4 linked regions of the Homo sapiens genome follow. The protein of the gene in region 3 interacts with the protein of the main gene of each other region in a biochemical or structural test. Each region holds a gene or a part of one and is shown on either strand. Other genes may lie near its edges.

Region 1 (7,041 bases), on a different chromosome or scaffold from region 3:
GGGGTGTCATTTACCTCATAGCATAATATTAATAGTCCACGTTACTGGTACACTCTAGAATTGTACAGTGTACACTATATGAATGTATGCAACTAAATATCACACTGTGGATGACTAACATAATGAAGATAAGAGAAAAATTAGTTTATGTAAAAAGGCAACAGTAATTATAGTAACTTAAATAACCTACTGTTTATGCCAAGTACTATTCAGAATAGTATGGCACGTTAATCTATGTAAACCATTTTTTTACAATACTAAATCATGTTCAGGTTAGCCCAGTTCTTAGCTTTTTGTTCATGTAGCACAGTTGCCTGTACATAACTGAAATAAACTCTAAAAGAACAACTAGTGAGACCACTCTAAGGATGGCTAACTGTAGATGATTACAAACAAACCAGGGCTGCATTAGTTTTATTTTTGATCTTTTTCATCTTCACAAAGTAAGAAGAGTGAGATAGTAATAAAATTGTGAAACAAGATAACTGTTATGGATATTATCATAGACAGCTCCCTATGCAAGTCTAGAGAATGGGCATGAGTTATTTAGGATATCTCAGTTTTTATCTAAGAAAATATAATATGCCAATGTCTATAGGCTTTGAGTAAACAACCCAAAATTTTAATGGGTTTTATTTTTAAAGAGCATCCTCAATGGGACATGTCTAGTTCTTGTTAGAAGATACTATGATTCCTGCCATTTTATATTTTGTTCTATCCTTTTTAGAATTCTATTAAAATCTGAGAGATCGTGACAACTGACTGGTTAAGAATCTTTAATCCTACTGTCATGCTGCCACCATTAAAATCCTGACTCTACCACGTACCAGCTGAGCTACCTTAAGCAAATTACTTAATCTCCCTGTACCTCTACATATTCATCTGGTAAATTTAGATGATTATGTTTCCCCACCTTCTAGAGTTAATATGGAACTTATCACATATGTATGTGATGTAATCAGAGAAGTGCCTGACACTTATTACAGGCTTGTTAAATGGTAAATACAGTATTATCATTGAAGATTAGGTGAATCTAGAATAGTGCTATGCACACACAAGGTACTGTCAATAGCTGTGTATGTAAGACAGATCAATGTTTCATTAATCCTTTTTGCCTCACTGCTTCTTGCAATCATTCTCTAATTCACATCTCTGTATGTCCATACTCTTATGCCTATTTATAAAAATGGATTCTTCAATGAGAATGTCCATAATCACACTATTCATAAGTAATCATTTATGATTGATTTGTACCATGCTTTATAACTTTCTTGATATTTTATAGTAGTTGTACGCATATACATATGTGTGTGTATCTGTTCTCTGACTTAGAGTTGCTGTCTCATAAAAAGCAAAGAGAACATAGGTGTTCAACAATGTTGAGTTATAAGCAATTAAAAACCTAATGTTAAAAAAAGTTGCTCAATATCATATTACTATTCTATCGAGTCTTACTTCCTCCAAAGCTAACTGATAAGTACATTACATTCATCCATGATTAGATTGAATTACTCAAATGCCTTCTATCTCTTTATTGTGATTCTGGCTTTATTTAAACTGAAATGTCAATGTTTTCTAGGTATTTTTACCATTTTTGCAGATATTGGGATAATCACTTTCACTAACGGTCCTCCAGAATTTTTAGACATTTCTCCAATAAGCATCTATATTAACTAAACTAGCATTAAATAAAGTGCAAACTTACCTTGTCATAACTATGCAATTCTGTATTCTCTAAAGGATGATTTTTCATATTACTCAACAATTCTGACTGAGCAATTGAAATTGAGACTATGATAAATGTTTTACACTGAAGGCTCATTTCATTATACAGTAGTCAGTTGAAATGGGGTTTCCGAAGAAGGTATTTTTAGGAAGTGCAGAGTACAGGAAAAAGCTGAATACGTTATACAATTTAAATATTTATTGAAGCTTTTCTACTAAGGCAACATTTTGGTAATATTCACAGAAATAGCAATATGGGAGGAAATTAGGGGTAAATAGATGGTAGAGACTGTGGAAACCAAGACACCTAATGCTAAAAGTGGGATCCTCATTCATGAAGTCATTAAATTGGAGATCGAAAGGAACAGACCTCTTTATGGAAATATTATTTTCCTTAGAATTTCATCATTTTTTCTAGATGTGTCTTCTCTGATTTTTTTTTTTTAGTGCTTTTGTCTTCTTTATTGAATTTCCGATCTCCTCTTCACACTCTATTATCTTTCTAGCTGGTCTCATCCACTCCATGAGTTGCATATTTAAATCCCTAATAATGACTTCATTTCTAGGCACAATACCCACGCGCTACATAAAAATACAAAACAAAACAAACACCTTAGCATCCACACCCCTAATCCTTCCTGTTGTTCCAATTTCCCTTCCAATCTCCTTGCAAATGGCACCATTATCCACCCAGGTGTGCATTTCATGGAGCACACAGCATGCAATACAACACCAATTCCTATTGATTCTATCTCATATACAAATCTTGAATAGATTTACTTCTTTCATCTCCACTGTCCCCATTCTAGTCCAAATCACCTTCTTTTGGATGAGCTACCGTAATTGCTTCAGATTGATAGTCCTTCATCTACCCTAGGCACTTGCCAATCTCTTTCACACAAAACAGAGTGATAGTCTTAAAAAATACAAATATGTTTACATCAGTTTTCTACCTGAAACCCATAAGGCTGTCCATTGATCTTAGTATAAAGAGAAAAATAATTTCTATAACCTTCAAGGCTCTGAATGATTGGACCCCAGTCGGCCATTCAGATGCAAGCTTGTTCCACACTTTTCTGCCCTCACTGTACTCTAGGAAAGCTGTACTTGTTTTAGATCTTTCTCCATACCATTTTCCACATTCAGAAACATTGCTCCCTCTGACAGGGACATTTTTGCTCCCTCTTTTCTTTTGGACAACTATACTCTAACCTCATTCTTCTTTGCCTTGCTTTGAATATTTTTTTTTTCTCAGAAGTATTTCCCCAATTTCGAAGACTGGTCTAACTCTCCCTATTATACATTCTTATTACAATGTGTGCTTTATTCTATAGCCCTTATCTCCAATGCAAGTAGTTTGCGTGTGTGTGTATTTAATATGCACATCCTCCTTGAAATGCTAGTCTCTCTTTGAGTTCACTTGTTTAGAATACTATCGCCAGAGCATAGCACAGTACCTGGCACAAAATGGGCACTCAATATGTGTATTTGTTACATGGACAAATGAATCAATAAATGGATAACAAATCATCAGCTGTAAGTCCCTTCTTTAAACTGTGGTCACCCAAAACCACACAATACAAGTTTTAGAGAGTCACTTATTTTGATACTTTTATTTTTGGATTTATTTTGAGAGCCAATCCATTTTCAGACATTTAAAGTAAAACACTGCAAAAGCCATAGGCTTGAGCAAAGTGAACCTCTGTGATAACACTTGGTGCTCTCTGACAGCCCATTAGAGACGGGGTGTGTACACCTAATCCAAAGGAATCCTCTAGCTCTTCAGCAGCTGTTCACATGGCTCATGCCCTGCCCTTCAGCGTCTACTAAATCAGGATTCCCCAGCTGTCTGAGCTTCCCGTAAGCGATTTTAGTTAACCACCTACAAGCCAACATTTCTTGCATCTGATTACGCTCTTTAAAGTCTAATTTCCCTTTTGCTTCCTAGTTATTTTGCAACATGTGAGTCATTGGGATTCATCATTTTTACAGATTATTATTTTTTCACTTACTCAACTAGTTTATTAATATTTTGTTCACTTAGTCACCAATTTATTTCTAATACATCGTTCTTAAGCACCAACATAAAAAGGAATTACTCAATTTGCCTTTGATGAAAATACGTGGGCCATTCTGATTTTGTGATTTTTCTTTCTTATTTCTTTAATTTTTCCTCACACAGCTTCCAAGGCTAAAATCTGCACTTGTAACAGTGTACTGACTCCCTTGCCCTTTAAGTCAGCACTTAGCTCAGGCTAAGGTACTATTGCAACCGTAATCTGATAAAGGAAGAGACAAGTTGAGTGCAAATAAAGATGAGTGCCAGGAATGAGAAAAAAGCTACTGATGTTTATGCCCTTTTATAGTCCTGATTCCATGACAGTCTTAGCCAAAAGCAGAGTGGAAGAAGGGAGAACGCTTTAAAACAAAACAAAACAAAAGCCAAGAAGAGGGTAAAAACATTTAAAGGGTAAGCATTTTATTTGCCCATAATTGGAAATAATATGGGACACCGTAATGGTAATTGTGCTCAGCTAACACTGACCTTTTTTAAAAATCAAAATTTTCATGATAGTGAAGACAACACATTTAAAAGTTGACAAATTAGCAAGAGACTTCGTGATATATATGTGAATTCCTCATTGTTGATATGCCCATGTATGGTTTTCATATTTATTAAATATAAACAAAAAACATCATGATTCGAGCATCTGATTTTTTGAAGTTTCTTTAAAATTATCTTAATCCTCTCCAAAACCCATTAAGCCATCTACATTCTCATTTCATTACATGGATAAGCATTGGCTTTAATAATGCATTTTAATGTACCTCCTCTTCGTTGACACAACCACATTTTTCTACTAAAATAAATAACTAAACTAAAATGAATAATAAACAAAAATAAAGGCAAAGCTCTTCCTCAGATTCTTTTATTCAAATGGCAATTAGACCTACATATTATTCACCAGTCTTAGATATATTTCAGATTTCCAAATTGGCATGAGAAAATCAATTCATCAATTTGCTAGCATTTTTAATTTATGGACAATTATTTTCTTAAAATGGTATGTAATCAAAATACTGAGTTAAAAATTCTGAAAGAGTCATTTAAGAACAACAACAAACAACAACAGCAACAACATTTTATCAGCATGGCAAGGAAATGACAACTCCATTTCAATTAAAGGATCATTGTCCATTCTCCCCCAGTTCCCATTAGTGAGGAATGGGGTTCATAATGACAGAGTGAAAGTGAGGCATTGAGGGAGAAGGCAAAAGATCACAAAAGAAAGCAGGAATACATTGATTTCTAAACCAAATCCAGACTACTAAGAACATTGGTTTTCTCAGGGCTTACTATCATTACATATACTACGCAAAGTCACCTTCAGAGGTTGTAGGCCTCCAGAAAATTGCTCTGTGTGTTCCGTTGCCTACTGAAATTCCCAAGTATTTTGAACGAGTGATATCAGATTAAAATAAAGATCGAGCTCAGAGTTGAATAGAAATTATCCCTTAAAATGGCAGCCTAAACAGAAGATGTGAGCTATAAAAGAGGGAGTACTGATCTTTGTGTTTTTAATGGGAATGAGGTAGAGGTTGTATGGCCGTGAGATGAGGACTCTTTTTATTTTATTTTTTTTTAACTTTTAAGTTCAGGGCTACAAGTGCAGGTTTGTTACATAGGTAAACTTGTGCCATAGGGGTTTGCTGTACAGATTATTTCATCACCCAGGTATCAAGCCTAGTACCCATTAGTTGCTTTTCCTGATCCTCTTCCTCCTCCAACCCTCTACCCTCCGAAAGGCCCCAGGGTGTGTTGTTTCTCTCTATATGAGGACACTTTTAAGCATAAGACAGCAGAGCCATTTCCCTTCCTCATTCTCATTTGTCTGCTGCCTATCAGAATTGTGCTTAAGAAAATTTATATGCCCTTAAAACGCTGGAGCCAAATGTATTTTTTTGGTCTTTTTGTTGGGCCATATTCAAGGAAGTAATCTTGAATGGGGAAACAGAAAGGCTATGCCCTGGGTGTTAAAGTATTTCATAATCTCTAGAGGAGCCATCTGGTTTAAGAAGGCACATTGAATGCTATAATATGCTGTAATATATGAGGGAAACAGACTTTTTATACTATCAAGCCTTTCATGAAAAAATTTCATGAAAAAATAAACAAAATCATTTTAGCTTTTAATCTTGGAACTATATTTAGTATAGGAGTGATTCACAAATAGCAGAGTTACTCTCCCATTCGAAGGGGTTATCAGAATCTCTGGAAGACACATTCACTTTTAGTATTAAGTAGAGGGAGCTTGAAATTTTGCAAGGATTTTAGGGACAATTCTATAAGTGACATAAATAGAAAAAACCCTCCAAACTTGGTAAAATAATAAATTATCCCATGGTGTTGCCATTTTAACTTTGATATCTGTATTAAAATGAAACTTCAGAACTCCAAACATATGTCAATATTTTATAGCATGAAACCCCAAGGAAGTCTAACTAATAGATGTTTTACGTAGGGAAAAGGTGAAGACTACAAACTATTTATTTGCTTGGTTTGTTTGTTTTTTGAAGATCAGTATACTGCATTGAGCACACTCTACAAGGGGAAATATTTTCATGAAACCTGGTTGCATTTAATAAAAACGTTTATTTCCCACACTGCAGCCCATGACCTTCCCCAGAAAATATTCCAATACGAACCAACTGCCTTGATAACAGAACACAAACCTCCTAGGACTATAGCAGGACTTTGTGAGAAAGAAAACCATTGCCTCTCTCTGAATCCAATCAAAACCTGAATGTACTGTATAAAAATAAACCAAGGTCATCATTATTCCTTGTCATTGTGATTTGGCGTGCCTTCAAATTATATACCCTGTATATTTCAAATAACTGCACCGCCTCCATTAACTGAGTTTGACATCACTTTAATCAATGTATCTTTTCAGAATGAAAGGCAGAAATGTCAAATTCCTACCATTATAAATTCTTTTAACTCTCTAATCTGCATTAAATAAAAGGTTGTCTTTGAGAAATAATAAATGCTCTAAAGAAATATAACTAGCATCAATTTTATTTTAAAATGTAACTGGGAAAAGATTAAATGTCAACACATCTCTTCATACAGAGGTGATTTCCCAAGAAACTATTAAAGCCTTACTTACATGAGGGGCCCCTCCCAAGGCTGTATCCAATTTTCTATTATTTTTCTTAAAATAGCACCCCCAATTGTATAACCTCAGGCCCCATAAATCCTTTCTTCCTGGTTCGTTCTGTGTTGTCAGACAGGGAATGTACATTAGTCTCATT
Region 2 (7,041 bases), about 24 Mb from region 3:
TTGTATGGGTGCGTGTGGGCTTCATGCCAAGGCCGCCCTTGGGAGGAACAGTGCCTGCTGTGTGGGTGCATGTGGGCTTCATGCCAAGGCCACGCTTGGGAGGAACAGCGCCTGCTGTGTGGGTGCGTGTGGGCTTCATGCCAAGGCCACGCTTGGGAGGAACAGCGCCTGCTGTGTGGCGCAGAATAGGCAGTGTGCACAGCACGGCGGGAAGCGAGGAGGGGCCTTGTTCACCCACCCTGTCCCCATGGCTACGGGAGAGCAGGAAAGGGTGCCCCAGGGAGAGTTTCCTAGAGAGACGGTTATACCCCTACCCCCTCCCAATAAAAAAACTGAAACAAACTCCTGGATCCTTACCTCCGCATGTTACAGACACTAAATGTCCTGTAAAAGCAAAAATGACCCACAAAAGGTTCATCTTCTCTCCACAAACTGCCCCACATAAAGTCCCTGTGTCAAATCAACAGAAAAGTCCACAGTGAACCCCAAAGCTGACACAGAAGTTAAAGAAACTGTTTTTAGAAGTTATTCAGTTACTGGGGAAAAATCATCTTCCTGTTTTTGATGGTAAAATACGAATCTTGCCGTCCTGCCACCCCCATTCTATTGGTAGAAAAGAAGGTCTAAGTGCATTCTTCTAATGTTGTCTTTCTTCTTTGTTTGCATAACAAAATTCAATAAAATGAAGAAAATAAAATTTATTTTGAGGTGACTGCTAATTGATTGACATCCTATTTTCTAAATCTCACCAAAATTCTAGCATATTCTAAACTGCTGAGATGACACCAGAAAGAAAGATAAATCATTTTCAAGAAGAAGAGCAACGCTAAGGCCTGTCAGTTCCACAGACATGCTCCTTTAAGCTCTCGAAAGGCAGGATCTTGGTCATTTTCATTCCATGGCAGAATGAGGGGGTGGAGAATGGGGCCCCAGGCAGGATTGGAGGTCACACATCACCGGGTAAAGCCCTCCCTCCCCAATAACATCCATCTCAGCTTTTCGGAGCTGCTTTTCTTTATAACTCAAAGACGTGACATCTCAAAAATGACTTCAAACTTCCCTGACAGCATGAAGTCCCCTCGGCCTCTCCCTGGTCCTCTCTGCATGCCTTTCTTTTAGAAACTGCTTCTCTCTTGCAATAGGTACAGGACCCAGCTGGACCAGCCAGAGCCCAGTGGCAGCTTGGTACAGATGACAGGGAGAGGGAGGCCAAGATGCCTACATTGGTGTGACCAGCTGTGAGAAGTGAATACCTGAAGCTTGTTCTAATACCACTAATGCCAAGTGGAGAGCCAGCGAGCCAGCCTGCCGGAAGAGGACTTCAACACAGAGGAACACCCCATGCAGGGATACACAAAGAACACTGGGGGACATTGGGTACCAACATGCTGGGAGCTGCCCCCAACCTCCTAGTGACTGCAACCAAAGGCTTCATCTTTCCTTTATTCCAATTTGAATTAAGTTCCTTCCTATGCATGTGAATGACTCTTAACATTGACAGCTACAACACTAATTATTTTGATCATTTCAAATTGTGATGAGCAAAATGTTCAAGATGTTGAGGTGTATTCTCCTGCCAAAGCTTCATAGTCTTTAGGTAGTTTCATAAAGCGTCATTACACTTGGTAACCAGCATCCCTCACTCTGGTCATGAGTGGAACCCAGGGCCTGCCCAGCCCTTGTGTTAAACTTTAATTCAAGCTGGATTCGCCAATCATACCCAAAGCGTGAGACTGTACTCAAAATCTTTTATTCATTTTGACTTATCCCTGTTAGAGGAAAAAAAAAAAACCAAGTAGCTTTCTAGAAGAAACACAAGGTTCTTGCAAACTTAGCACATATTGTAATTCAATGTATGTATGTGTTTCCAAATAGCAATTACTGAGCTTTAAAGGGACTTTTGGAGAAAAAGAGCCATAATGACCATATCATTCATGCTTCAGGGTTTTGGGTTAATTTTATTTTTTTTGAGACGGAATCTCACTCTGTCGCCCAGGCTGGAGTGCAGTGGCACAACCTCCACTCACTGCAAGCTCCGCCTCCTGGGTTCACGCCATTCTCCTGCCTCAGCCTCCTGAGTAGCTGGGACTATAGGTGCCTGTGACCACACCCAGCTAATTTTTTTTTTTTTTTTTTTTTTTGGTATTTTTAGTAGAGATGGTGTTTCACCATGTTAGCCAGGATGGTCTCAACCTCCTGACCTCGTGATCCGCCCATCTCGGCCTCCCAAGTAGCTGGGACTACAGGCGCCCACCACCATGCCTGGCTAATTTTTTTTTGTATTTTTAGTGGAGACAGGGTTTCATGTGTTAGCCAGGATGGTCTCGATTTCCTGACCTCGTGATCTGCCAGCACCGGCCTCCCAAAGTGCTGGGATTACAGGCGTGAGCCACCGCGCCCGGCCAGGGTTTTGGTTTTATACATAGAAACTGAAAATTGCTTTACAAGTTCCCAAGATGTATCCAATAATAGCACAATGCACAGAAATAAGAAGCCAAACAGCTACCAGTAATAATGCACATATTCAAAACAACATCAATAGTTTTTGGTACCATAAGTTGAAGTTACACTGCATAATCTTTGAAAGTACTAGCAATGGCTGGGTATGGTGGATCACGCCTGTAATCCCAGCACTTTGGGAGGCCGAGGTAGATGGATCACCTGAAGTTAGGAGTTTGACACCAGCCTGGCCAACATGGTGAAATGCTGTCCCTACCAAAAAAAAAAAAAAATACTAAAAATTAACTGGGCATGGTGGCAGGTGCCTGTAATCACAGCTACTTGGGAGGCTGAGGCACAAGAATCACTTGAACCCGGGAGGCGGAAGTTGCAGTGAGCCGAGATTGTGCCATTGCACTCCAGCCTGGGCAACAAGAGTGAAACTCTGTCTCAAAAAAAAAGAAAATAAAAGAAATTACTAGCTAGCAGTGAAATCGGTCACACCACTAAATTCCACACTAAAACTCAATGAGTAGTACTGAAAGCCAGGAATGAAATTAAAGCTTATGAAACAATACTCAATCCATTATGTCATGATCCAGATACTGAATAAACAAGCATCCTGTGGGCATTTCACTGAACATCTTCAATTCAGCCAAAAGCTGAGTCATGATATCTCTGGTCTGGTTAATTTTCTAACCAAGTATTACCAGCAAGGCTATCTTGAATTATGAATTTTTAACTAGAGCTGATTGAAATCACATTTTGACATTTTGTTTGAACAAAATACTTGTGTTGAGTTCTAAGCTGGGGACACCCTGTATGGATCCCTCGCTGCACTCCTCACCTGTGTTCACATGTCGGTCATGGGCTGATGTGTTTCCACCTGCAGAGGAAAGGGCACCTGCTGGCTCTCTGTGCAGGAAACAGTGTGGAATGAACAGTCCAATATGTTGGGTTAGGGAGTGTCAGCCTAATACAATGACAGAGAGAGGCTCTCCCAAAGTTTATTTGGGACTATGTAGGCAATTGCAAGCTGGGACATATGTGCTATAAGAGATTATAGGGATATCCAAAGAGGCTGGGATTCAGGAAAGCTTAAAGGCAAAGTGAGGAGGTTACAGAAGTTGTTTTGAAACCGTTATCCTTGGCTACAAGGATCAATAGCAAGGGGAGCTTGTGTCCTCATAGAAGACTTGTCTTTGCACAAGGTTGCAGTGGTCTTTGTGCAGCTTGTGGTGTTGCCAGGGTCTTTTGTGGTACTTCTTGTTATCAGGTAAATATTCATGGTTCCTCTTTCATGGGGGGGGTCCATTTTGTGAGGGTTTCACAGGAGTCATTCCATCTCAGCGCCGGTCACTTTCATGGAAGTTCTATGGAAATGCTCAGCATCGGTGACTTTCATGGAAGTTCTACTGAAATGCTCAGCGTTGGTGACTTCCATGGAAATTCTACTGAAATGCTCAGTGTCAGTCATTTTCGTGGAAGTTCTACTGAAATGCTCAGCATCGGTGACCTTCGTGGAAGTTCTACTGAAATGCTCAGCGTTGGTGACTTTCATGGAAGTTCTACTGAAATGCTCAGCATTGGTAACTTCCATGGAAGTTCTACTGAAATGCTCAGCATCGGTGACTTTCACGGAAGTTCTATTGAAATGCTCAGCGTCGGTGACCTTCGTGGAAGTTCTATTGAAATGCTCAGCGTCGGTGACTTTCACGGAAGTTCTACTGAAATGCTCAGCGTCGGTGACCTTCACGGAAGTTCTACTGAAATGCTCAGCGTTGGTGACTTTCATGGAAGTTCTACTGAAATGCTCAGTGTCGGTGACCTTCATGGAAGCTCTACTGAAATGCTCAGTGTCGGTGACCTTCATGGAAGTTCTATTGAAATGCTCAGCATTGGTGACTTTCACGGAAGTTCTACTGAAATGCTCAGCGTCGGTGACCTTCGTGGAAGTTCTACTGAAATGCTCAGCATCGGTGACCTTCATGGAAGTTCTACTGAAATGCTCAGCGTTAGTGACCTTTGTGGAAGTTCTACTGAAATGCTCAGCGTTGGTGACCTTCACAGAAGTTCTATTGAAATGCTCAGCGTCGGTGACTTTCACGGAAGTTCTACTGAAATGCTCAGTGTCGGTGACCTTCATGGAAGTTCTATTGAAATGCTTAGCGTCGGTGACTTTCACGGAAGTTCTACTGAAACACTCAGTGTTGGTGACCTTCGTGGAAGTTCTACTGAAATGCTCAGCATCGGTGTATCTCATGGAAGTTCTACTGAAATGCTCAGGGTCGGTGACCTTCGTGGAAGTTCTACTGAAATGCTCAGCATCAGTGACTTTCATGGAAGTTCTACTGAAATGCTCAGCCTCAGTGACTCTCATGGAAGTTCTACTGAAATGCTCAGCATCAATGACTTTCATGGAAGTTCTACTGAAATGCTCAGCATCAGTGACTTTCATGGAAGTTCTACTGAAATGCTCAGCGTTGGTGACCTTCATGGAAGTTCTACTGAAATGCTCAGCGTTGGTGACCTTCATGGAAGTTCTACTGAAATGCTCAGCGTTGGTGACTTTCATGGAAGTTCTACTGAAATGCTCAGCATCCGTGACTTTCATGGAAGTTCTACTGAAATGCTCAGCATCGGTGACCTTCATGGAAGTTCTACTGAAATGCTCAGCATCGGTGACCTTCATGGAAGTTCTACTGAAATGCTCAGCATCGGTGACCTTCACAGAAGTTCTACTGAAATGCTCAGCGTCGGTGACTTTCATGGAAGTTCTACTGAAATGCTCAGCATCGGTGACCTTCGTGGAAGTTCTACTGAAATGCTCAGCGTCGGTGACTTTCATGGAAGTTTTACTGAAATGTGATGGTATCAACACAGCAGCATTTCCCAAAATGTGTTTGATATTAAAAAGTTATATTTTTTAAACACTCTTTGTTTGCATAGATTTGGAGAAAAGTAGATTGAAGAAGGCGGGATACTTTTGCTATTGTGGAACTTCTCAGCCACCTCACTGTGTTAATTGCACTGTCTGTCTCCAATAATGATTTGCCATGCTGTGGTTTTCAAAATTCTGTGAGTTTTTTTTTTTAAATGGGTCAACTTGATGACCATTTATTAAATTCCATGAGAATTTCGTGCTACACACTCAATGGGACAAATCATTGTAATGTAAATTTTCTTATTGTTGGTGGAGAATGATGTAATCATAATGTCACAGGCTGTAACAAATAAAAGATGTTTACATGTTTATTTAAAGCTTCACGTTGGCCCCCACAGATGGGACAATGGAATCTGAATCCAGTGGCTGAAGCACAGAAGGCAAAGCTAGAAAAAGCACTGAGGCTTGGACCAAAGGCCCCAAGGACGCAGTTTACTGCTCAGGGCTGTGTCTGAGCTGACTGAGTTGATGGATGCTAGTGGAATGGAAGAGACAGCGCTGGGGACTGCATCAGCTTTGAATATTCCATAAGGTCAGAGCCTGTGGGTGGGATCTCCAAAAGAACTCTCTTAAGTAAGACAAAAAACCACTGGGACACGCAGGTGACTGGAATCGTTATGCAGAATCAGGCTCCAATGGTAGGCCAAGCAGACACTGCTCTCTTATTTAGAGACTCCATCTCTACAAATATTGAAAGAAAAATCACTCATCCCCTTCCTGAGTGAAGGGTTTGCTCATCTGTGTATGATGCTGGATGTAGGGGGGTGAAATCAGACACCGTATGTTTGCTGCTTCTGTCTGAGTGAGAAGGAAAGAAAATCCCCTAGGGACAGACTTTTTTTTTGTTTGTTTGTGTTTTTAAGAAAAGGAAATTAAAAACACTAGAGTAGCCTCTTTTAGTCACACAAATATAAGGGAAATAGAAAAGGCAAGGAGCTTCCCCTCACTTGTTGTGGCAGGTGCCAGTGCACAAAGAGTCCAATAACCTTCTGGAAATAAAAATATCTTGATCCTTTTGAACTTCCACCCTATACCTTCCTTCTAAGCTGTGCTGCTGGAAGGAACACACCCCAGAGAGAGCTCTCCTGAACAGGCTGGGCTGGTGATCCAGGCTTCATACAAGATCCTCCACTCTGAGGGCAGAGAGGGAGGCATGCTTCCAAAGCTGCGGTGGCTGGAGCTTTCTGGCACAGGTGAGCTCAGAGCACAAGGGCAAAGCCTCCAGATGCTGGGAAAGCCAAGAAAACAGACTGTCCCCCAGAGGCTGCAGGAGAAAGCAGCCAACACCTTGATTTTAGCCCTAAGAGACAAGTTCTTAGAGAACTGTAAGAGGATAAATGTGTGTCTCTAATCTACTATATTTGTGTTAATTTGTTAAGCATCGATAGAAAATGAATACAGATAACTTCTTTCAATCATTTAATGTACTTTTTTTTTTCCTATGGGAAAAATGGGATAGAATTTGTTCAGTGCCCTTAAATGTAAAGAAATGAAGATAAATAACCATTTTTGGTTGAATAAATTGAGCTTTAGTTTCTTTGTTTGCTTGTTTTTGGTAATATTGTTAAATGGAAAGAAGATATGGACAAAGTAAAATGTTTCTCAATATTACTACAGAAAGGCAGCATTCTAATGAAAGAGAAAAAACATGCAAAGAA
Region 3 (6,876 bases):
CTTCATTACAGTCACTGCCCTTTATAAATATTTATAGCAGTTCTTCTGCTAAAAATAACATCCTGGAGCCCAGGGAGGAGGAAAAAATAAATGAAAATCACCGGGAACGGGACTTGATCACGTGTGCCCGAGCCCAATCGACCCCTAAGGCGAGAGGCTGCGAGCAGCGCCCCCGGCGGCGCGCCCCCTGGCGGCCACGGAGTCCGCGGCGCAGAGACCCTCCCGCCCTCTCCGAGGAGGCTCAGCCCGGCTGCGGCGCGCGGCTGGGTCTCCGCCCCTCCCTCCCGGGCTGCAGGCGGCGGCATCACACGGGGCGGGCGGAAGCCTAACCAGTGTGAGACTATTTTTAGCACCGTGGCCAGGGTGTGAATGTCTACAGAGCCGAGCAAGGCCTGACGCTTTCTTTGCACGCTGGAAGAAACCTGTTGGTTTTTAAAGGTCAAAGATAAGGAAACTTGTGCCCCCACGTTCAGGAGCACCCCACGTGCTGGCCAGACGCCAGGAAGTGTTTCATCAGGTCACAAACACACAAGAGCTTGGTGCTTTTTCTTTTCTCTTTTCAACCTCCAGGTGAATTCCTGATGCGGAGATGAGACCATGCCCTGAGGGGAGTGATGAAGGTGCTAGTACATGCAGGGCTGTGCAGGGGGAGGCCCACTAGCTGTGCCACGCAGCCCCTCCCCGCTTCCCACCGGCTCTGGCTCCCCTCTCCCTGGCGGGTGGAGTGACGTCTGGCAGCCTGCAAGCCTGGTCCAGGTGTGCGGTGGAAAGATGGAGAGGAATGTGCCTCTGGGGGAAGACCTTGCCTTCGCCATGTCGGCGCCAGCTTGCTCCTCGTCCTCTGTGCCTGCGCAAGACACACTCACCGTTAGTCACGGGCACTGTTGAGGGTTCAGGACAAAAGCTGCTAACATCTACTGTGAACAGGAGGCCCTGCAGGGAGGGGCTGCTAGGATGCTGGGCGCCTTTCAAGCGTTGGGCTGAAGGGTGGTACCTAGGGTCCTCTGCCATCATTCCTAAGGGTCAGGAAGTGTTTCCGTGGAAGAAAGAATTGGGTTCACAATGCAAGGTTTGAATGGGGTGATTTCTTGGGGAGAATTGTGGCCCAGGAGAAGGGCAGGGAGGACTGAGGTGTGCCGATGAATACTAAGAGGAAAGGGAGGAAGCCTCAGCCCCCGGCCAGCAGAGCGCAGGCCTGGGCATCCATGAATCCGCGGCACCCAAGTTTTATACTCTTAGTTTAACTCTCGGCTGTTGGTGTTTCTCATCACCCCTGATGTGGGTCAGAGAGCGCAGGATTAGGAGGCAGAAGACCCGGCTCCAATTCTGCTTCTGGCATGGAGCTTCTGGTGTGGGGCATTGGTTTCCTCCATGTGCAACAAGGCGGTGGGGGCACATGGCTCTGCCACGTTCCCTTGCACCCCAGTTCCTTCTGCCCCGGGGAGAGAGGGGCTCTGGCAGGCTCCTGCAGGGCGAGTCAGTTCCTGATTTCCCTCCTCGGCTGCCACGGCCTAGGCTTGCTTGGGAAAGGGCCTTGCCTGAATGTGCACAGTGAGTTTAGGGAGAAGCCTCTCTCCAAGCCCCTGGGGCGCTGTGATTTCCAGGGCAGCGAGAGAATGTGCGTGGCCCAGGTGCTGCCCTCTCCTCAGCTCGCACAATCCAGAGTCAGCGCAGGCCGAGGCTGCAGGGGCCCCGGGGGAGCGGGCAGAGGCCTTCAATGGCCTGGCGCGGTTGGGCAGAGAGGGCCAGAGGCTATTCCAGGATGACACGACTTGGGAGGGTCTGAAAAAACCCCTTTTCTGGATTGTGCAGCTAGGGCCCTGACTTCTTTATTCGAGGAAGATGCCTAATTTTTAAATATAAGAGGTGGGGGGGTGGGAGGAGGGGAGGGAAGACAAGATTTTAAAATGGAGAAGTCTGATATCTTGGTGCTGGGACTAGAAAGAATTAAGGTGTTGAGCTGGAAAATGGGAATGACTAATTCCTAAAGGCAATGAGCATCTGCCACTGGAGCAGTCCGTACTTTTCTGCATTGCTTCTTCAGGAAGTGAGAAGGTGCAGCTTGGCCGGGCACCATGGGAAGCGGCTTGGTCAGCCCTGTAGTCAGTGTGATCCTGCATGAATCACATGTCTGTGGGTCAGGGACTGTGATTCGGTGCAGTGCTGGGTGACAGAATCCAGGGACGCACTGGCTGTGGTTTGGATCCCAGGAAGGAAGTGGGCAGTGGCTGTGGGAAAGGAGCATGGGAGGCAGTGCTCCCCAGGGAGGTGGCCTTGCTCAGCACACCCTGTTTCAGCCAGCAGTGTCGGGTCTGCCAATGCCATCCCAACACAGAGGACACCAGGCCATGCCCAAGGACCAGGCCTGCAGACAGTGCTGTGCAAGACAGGACACAGCCTAGAAACAGGGCAAGGAGGGCACATGGCTGGGGTGGGCAAAGGGAAGGGACAGTTGGGCTCTTGCATCTTCACCTGTTAGGACTGCCCTGGCTAGGGACCTGTGACTGCAGGAAGGGAGGGGAAGGGAAGATGCTGAGGAAGGAGGGAGGGGCCGTGGGGAGGCAGAGGACTCTTTGTACTCACCTGAGCTTCCTCTGTGTCCGGCTCCTCTGCTAACCTGTGGCAGCATGGGCAGAAACAACACACTGAGGTCACGGCCAGGTCTTCTCATGCCCCAGACTATCTCAAAGGGGCTTCCCTGACCAACCCACCCCAGGGGCTTCCTTGCTTCTCCCGTTACTCGTTTGTTGACTTTTCCCACCCAGGTATGACAGCAGGGTAGAGTCATACTTTCTACTACTGTAGCCAACCCGAGGCAGCCATGGAGACAGATGCTTCTCAGGAGAAGGAAAGTCATTAAAAAATGGAATCAAAACTCCTTAAATCCAGGGAGCAGTTACATGAGGGGGGCAAAGCCCACTCAGCTCTGAAAGTTCCCCAAGGGAACATGACTGCGCCTTGAGTGAGGGCGGTCCCCCTCCTGCAGATGGTCTGCTTTGAAAAGCCCTGCGCTTGCTCACCCGAGGCTCGAGCACTGCCTGGCCCCTCCTGAGCCTGTTCTGTTCTCTGAGGGCCATTGCTGTCCAGCCTTGCACCAGGGCTCTTTATGGATGCAAACTGGATTTACAGCCCCCACACCGGGATGGCAGGGTATGGGAGGGGAGACTGTGAAGGACACAGGAGCATAACATGAGGCTGTGGAGGGTGGAGATGATGTACTATGGGGGAAGGTGTGTTAGTCTGTGCTTCTTCTATGTGTCTTGGTTACACTTCTCTTGAGGAGATGCAGAGGAGGAAGGGTACCCCGATGGAGCAGAAGCATTCCCCAGGATGCAGCCAGCCAGCCAGGGGTGAACAGGGAGAGGCGTGAGGCAGGGGTGAATATGGCAGGGAAGTTCAGCTTGGTCTAGATTCTTCAAAAGTTCCATTTGACTCTCACAGTTTCCTTATCGAGCAGACTATGTTTGCCTGATGGTGCTGACCAAATTCTGTTTATATTACGTCAGTATGGTTTCAACCCCAAAGAAGCAAATATACTCTCTCTCTTTACGGTTGACAGTTACAGATCTCTGGTGTCCAGGTGACTGCAGTTAGTCCTAGGTCTGTAAAATCTCAGGCCTAGCTCATGGCAGAGAATCAGGAGGTCCACCCATAAAAACACTTAGTCTTATAAAAATGCCCATGTATGAGCTACGTTGTAGTTTCAGGGACATATCCTAGAACCTATATAATGTGGAGAGCCAAACATAAAAAACTCTACCATCTCTCACCCCAACTCTTAACACTCTTGGCCTTAGGGATGACACCAGAAAGTCACATACGTAAAAATTCAGGCATTCCCACAAAAAGATTTCACATAGACATACAGACATTCTGGTATATGCACTGAAAGACAGACAAGGAGCTCTAAGGGCAAGAGGCACAGAAAGACAGAAGAGATGCAGACAGGGCAGTGCAGGTGTAAAGACAGTGCCCTGGGGCCTGGAGTGCCGGGAAAGGGAAACCCAGTCTGATGCGAACAGGGCAGTGCACGTGCAGAGACAGTGCCCTGGGGCCTGGAGGCCCGGGCGAGGGAAACCCAGTCTGATGTGGACAGTGGAGTGCAGGTGCAAAGACAGCACCTTGGGACCTGGAGGCCCGGGCAAGGGAAACCCAGTTTGATGTGGACAGGGGAGTGCAGGTGCAGAGACAGCACCCTGGGGCCTGGAGGGCTGGGCAAGGGAAACCCAGTCTGATTCCCATGTGAGGCATGGCCCACACTCAGACTCGAACCAGGATAAGGGCTAGAGTTCGTGGCCAGGGCAAGGCCTCAGTGGCTGGGGCAGTCCTAGGTTTGCTTTGGTGGAGTGAAAAGGACTGAGGAGAGGCCATGGGAAAAAGCTACTGGGGAAGGGAGGGGCAGGTGAAGGGAGGCCAGAGATGCAGCTGTTATGTCTTCAGCCAGGAACATTCCACATGAATGCTAGGATTTGGTTGGCATGTGCATGTGCATGTGCGTGTGCGTGTGTGTGCGCGTGTTTGCAGCATGTGTTTACACCAGTGTAAATTTATCTGTGTATCTCTTCACCTTTTGCCCTCCTGCCTTCTTTCTTGTCTGTGTGGGTAAGTCAATTGTTTCTACATTTCTATGAAGCATTCCTGGATGTCTGAAACACTACTGCTCTCTAATGTGACCTTTTATTTTTATTTTTTAGATAGGGCTTTGCTCTGTTATCCAGGCTGGAATGCAGTGGCGTGACTATAGCTCACTGCAGCCTTAAACTCCTGGGCTCAAGCAGTCCTCCTGCCTCTGCCTCCAAAGCAGCTGGGACTACAGGTGTGCACTACCACATCCGGCTAATTTATTTTTTGTAGAGATGGGGTCTTGCTATGTTGCCTATGCTGGTCTCAAACTCCTGGCATCAAGTGATCCCCCTGCCTCAGCCTCCTAAAGTGCTGGGATTACAGGTGTAAGCCACCATGCCCAGCCTAGTCTGACCTTTTGGTGTCCGTGCCACATATGTCATTCTCATCAACTCGTTGGCGCTGCTGTCCACTTCCTCCCAGGCCTAGCTCAGACTCACTAGACGATTTCAGAATCTGCAGAATCTTCTTCCTCTTCTCCCAGTTTCTTCCTCAGCAATTTCAGGGTCCTTGCTGACAAATTCCTTGCCCCGTGAGACTCCAAAGACGACCCTGTCTTAGCCACTCCAGCCCCTATGGGCCAAGAATGCTCCAGACCCACTGTCCTGTAGGTTTCCCTTTCTTGTCACAGCTTCCTTACCTGTATCTCCCACTTGGCTTCTACCCTTCCTTAAGTAAGACCACTCCACTTCCCTTAGTCTACCAGTTCAGCTCAGACTAAACCATGGGCATTGGAGTTGAACTCAGGCTGTGCCATTTATCAGCTGGCAGGTTCTTTCACTCCCCCGAGCCTTGTTCAGAATTCCTCCCTGGGAGGGCTGCTGCTGGCTCCTCCTCATGCTTCCTGCTCTCCCTACCTTCACCTCCTTGGGGTGACCAGCCATTGCATTTCTCTCCCCGATAAGGTACTCTCTATCTCATCACCCCATTTATTTCCTTTGATTTGTTCATTTATTGACCTCCTACTAAGCACCAGGCACTGGAACACAACATGAACAAAACAGACTAAAATCTCTGCCTTGAGGAGCTGATGTTTAGGAGGAATCCAGCAACTAACACATTAATGCACAACAGAAAGAACAGCTCACCCTCAAATGTCCAAAGAAAATTTTGTTTTCTGTTCAGTATAACATAGAAGGATGAAGATTAAGAGCACGAAGTTTGGAGTCAGAAAGACCCAGTTCTCTGCCTTTTTTTTTTTTTTTTTTTTTTTTTTTGAGACAGAGTCTCTCTTTGTTGCCCAGGCTGGAGTGCAGTTGCGTGATCTTGGCTCACTGCAACCTCTGCCTCCTGAGTTCAAGGGATTCTCCTGCTTCAGCCTCCCGAGTAGCTGCGATTACAGGCATGCACCACCACACCTGGCTTATTTTTGTATTTTTAGTAGAGACAGGGTTTCACCATGTTGGCCAGGCTGCTCTCGAATTCCTGGCCTCAAGTGATCCGCCCGCCTCGGCCTTCCAAAGTGCTGGGATTACAGGTGTGAGCCACCACGTCTGGCCTAAATCTCTGCCGTTTAACAGCTACATGAACAACATCTCTCTGAGCCTATTTCCTCATGGGTAAAATGGGGATATTCGAATCTGTCTCACAGTGTTAAGGATTAGATGAGATCATCATACGTGAAAATCATTCCCTGCAGCTCTTCCCAGATGTCATGTGTTAAGCAGGTTCGATATATAATGAAACTAGGAAGGCACTACTGTCCTTTGCTGACACCTTCCCTTCTTGGTTTTATTCTTCCATGAAGCCACAAAACCATTTGGCTATTCTAGTCCACAACAATCTCTTCCTTTTCAGAAACCCTTATTATACTTATATGCTGAAAGTTTTATGATTAGCTTTTTCTGCCACTTCATTTGATCTATTTATTTTGCATTTTTGGTCTTTTTTTTTTTTTTTTTTGGAGATGGAGTTTCACTCTTGTTGCCCAGGACGGAGTGCAGTGGTGTGATCTCGGCTCACTGCAATCTCTGCCTCCCAGGTTCAAGTGATTCTCCTGCCTCATTCTCCCCAAGTAGCTGGGACTACAGGCGCCTGCCACCACACCTGGCTAATTTTTTGTATTTTTAGTAGAGATGAGGTTTCACTATGTTGGCCAGCCTGCTGGTCTTGAACTCCTGACCTTGTGATCCACCCGCCTCAGCCTCCCAAAGTGCTGGGATTACAGGCGTGAGCCACCGCACCTGGCCTGGTCTTGCTTTATTAACTAGATCATAAACTTCTCCAGTCAAAGGGTCATCTTTTGTGTTCTAC
Region 4 (2,952 bases), on a different chromosome or scaffold from region 3:
ATACAGGTGACACCGGTCGGGTGCAGTGGCTCGCGCCTGTAATCCCAGTACTTTTGGAGGCCGAGGCAGGAGGATCACATGAGGTCAGGAGTTCGAGACCAGCCTGGCCAACATGGTGAAACCCCATCTCTAATACAAATACAAAAATTAGTTGGGCGTGGTGGCATATGCCTGTAATCCCAGTTACTTGGGAGGCTAAGGCAGGAGAATCACTAGAATCCAGGTGATAAGAGTTGCGGTGAGCCGAGATCACACCACTGCACTCCAGCCTGGGCGACAGAGCAAGACTCTATCTCAAAAAAAAAAAAAAAAAAAAAAAAAGTTTTATATGTGAGACTGGTCATTCATTTCTAGCTCTTTAGCCTATACATTTAATATCTGCGGTCCAAAAGGCTGCAAGACATTAGGAAACAAAATATACATAAATATAATGACATATCAGTCACTATTCTGTCAAGACAGAAGGCCTGAACTCAGCCATGTAAAATCAACCTAACACTTAAGTTTTAAGAAAGTCATTACATTTCAAAAAATTTTCCTCTTTATTTAAACATAAAACGCATTTACAACATGCAAGTTAACTTAAAATTAAACGGTGTCTTCCCAAACCAAGTATTTGTGAATGTATCTTCAAGCACTGAAAATAAACCAACATATTCCACAGGTAGACTCAGACTCTCTTCTGTCACCTCATGTCAAATGGAGTTAAGCACAAACTGAGAGTTACGCACAGTAGTTTTCTTAAGTTAGGCAAATAATTTAATTAATCGCCATGAATAAATATTCTCTTTATTTCATTGAGTTTCTCTTCTGAACCATCTATCAATGCCATTCAGAGGAACGTTAATATATCCAGTCAAAAAGACACTGCAAATTGAAATGTGTCAATATCCTAGATGATCAGAAATTTTCATTTTTAAGAGTAAGTGCTGTGTTTAATGACCTACCATAGCAAAAAGCAGTTCACTGAAAACAAATTTATGAAATTCTTGGTACACTTTATGAAAGTCTGAAATTATAAATAGAAAAGAACCATCAAGATACTTTTTAAAAACCTAACATTGTATATTCTGAACCACATGCTAATTAAAATTCGTTGTTCATTACACAGCACCAATACCCATGATACATCTTACAAGAACAAAACTAACATATTTGGAAAAAAGAGAAAAAAAAATTCTGCTTCATTTACGAATGTTGCCAAAGGAGGCAAGTTTTCAACTGAAAACAAAACATAAAGGTCTATGTGGATGCAGCCAAATGTTTCTCCATTTAGAAAATCATCATAAAAGGTGGCAGCACTTTTTTTGCTTGTTAACTATATTACTTATAACTGGCTGCACCAACATTTCATCTCAATTTTTGGAGTGTTTCTTCTGATCAATCCTAAAAGCAACACAATCATTTTAGAGGTTGCAGACTACAACAGCAAAGATTTTTGACTATTAAAAAAATAAATAAATAAATTTATATTTTAAATCAAAATTATTACAAAAGTGGAAATTACAATAGTTACGGAAATAGAAAAATAAGCCAATTATGATCTGAGTCTTCTGACTATGGCTCCAAATTTAATACAAATATCTGTGTATAAAACTTTTGCAAAAAGTTAATTCTGCCAGCAAGATCCTAACACAGAACTTTCCAAGTTTCTCTGCTAACCTTAAATCCCCATTCTCTGTGAATTTCTGCTAACACAGTTGCAGTCACCGCCCCCCTACCACTGATGAAGCAAATAGTGAAATCTCTTTCCCTATTACTTTTACAGTTTCCTAAAATAAGCTGTTGACTTACTTTAATCATCTGAGGAAAAAGTGGCAAAAATACGTATACACTTAGTACTGATTACAAAATTATCGGCTATGGCCAAGAAAATAATTTATCTAATGATTATTAGTGACTTGCAAACAATTTACTATTTCTAGACTAAAGAAATAAATTAGTGTACAAATTAGTGTAGCAGGTTAAAAACACCTCAGGGATTTCAGACCAAAATTGACCTATATATATTTTTAATTCATCATATATCTGTCCTGTTTCTTCATTTTTCTCAATTTCCACACGCTATAAATTTAGGTCGGCCAATAAAGTACTAACCGTATAAAATTATGTTTAATCCTATAATATCTTAATTCATTTTACTAATATTAAAGATGACAAATTATTACCTGTCCAATACTTATATTAGCTAGCAGGCTCACCAGAATAAAGCAGAGTATTTTAATTCCATCAAGACTTGTTGAGTACAGAATCAGGAAAAAGAGAAATATAATTCCTTTTCCAAACTCCCTTAAACTAAGATCTGCTTTTGATACTTTAAAATATTTCTATTCAAAATAACTCGGCAACAGGCATTTCATGAGATAACAAGTAGCCTTGCTCAGTCTCAAATGCCTATTAGGCATTTGTAACGTTTCAGTGCTCAAACAGTAGTTTTCAGGAGCAAACTTCAGAAACAATACAAGTAATTTTAACCCTGATATCATCATTTCAAGGGATTTTAAAATACAGTACTGACTGGATATATTTTATGGGCATGTAGTGTTGTTAAGTGGTAAAATTTAAAGACATTTAACCTAAATGTTCCATTTTCTCTTAAGAAAAAAAAAGGAAGACGTTTTAATAGGAAAAGAAAAACAAGAAGCAGTAGCAGCTAGGTAATTTAAACTGAGATTAAAAAATAAACATACACAAAAAATACAAAAAGTACAGTCCTATAAGGTACAGTTAGCTTGGCACAGTAAAGACTAAATTTAAGACACGATAGACAAACTGTGTAATAAATAGGGCCACAGTTGTAAACTGTCCTTTTTCCCTCCTAAGATGCCAAAATTGCACTCTAGTTGTGTTGGGAAGCAGCAGAGTTTACAAGAAGAGTAGGTAGGAAACAGCTGTACAGGCCAGGTATAATTTATACATTTTTTTTAAAAGTTATAATTCTACAATCCCAAG

Evidence for each region.
Region 1: the proteins of DTNB (region 3) and DMD form a complex in vitro, tested with the Homo sapiens proteins (one study listed by BioGRID).
Region 2: the proteins of DTNB (region 3) and SNTG2 form a complex in vitro, tested with the Homo sapiens proteins (one study listed by BioGRID).
Region 4: the proteins of DTNB (region 3) and KIF5B form a complex in vitro, tested with the Homo sapiens proteins (one study listed by BioGRID).

Annotation. Positions count from the first base shown.
Region 1 is NC_000023.11:33,201,509-33,208,549, forward strand, and holds part of DMD (dystrophin), read right to left. Parts: intron 1-7,041. UniProt on the Homo sapiens protein: Anchors the extracellular matrix to the cytoskeleton via F-actin. Ligand for dystroglycan.
Region 2 is NC_000002.12:1,359,838-1,366,878, reverse strand, and holds part of SNTG2 (gamma-2-syntrophin), read right to left. Parts: intron 1-7,041. UniProt on the Homo sapiens protein: Adapter protein that binds to and probably organizes the subcellular localization of a variety of proteins. May link various receptors to the actin cytoskeleton and the dystrophin glycoprotein complex.
Region 3 is NC_000002.12:25,376,707-25,383,582, forward strand, and holds the end of DTNB (dystrobrevin beta), read right to left. Parts: intron 2,618-6,876; coding exon 2,613-2,617; coding exon of another isoform or gene 2,584-2,612; intron 848-2,583; coding exon of another isoform or gene 624-847; 3' UTR 537-623; downstream 1-536.
Region 4 is NC_000010.11:32,008,492-32,011,443, forward strand, and holds the end of KIF5B (kinesin-1 heavy chain), read right to left. Parts: 3' UTR 524-2,952; downstream 1-523. UniProt on the Homo sapiens protein: Microtubule-dependent motor required for normal distribution of mitochondria and lysosomes. Can induce formation of neurite-like membrane protrusions in non-neuronal cells in a ZFYVE27-dependent manner.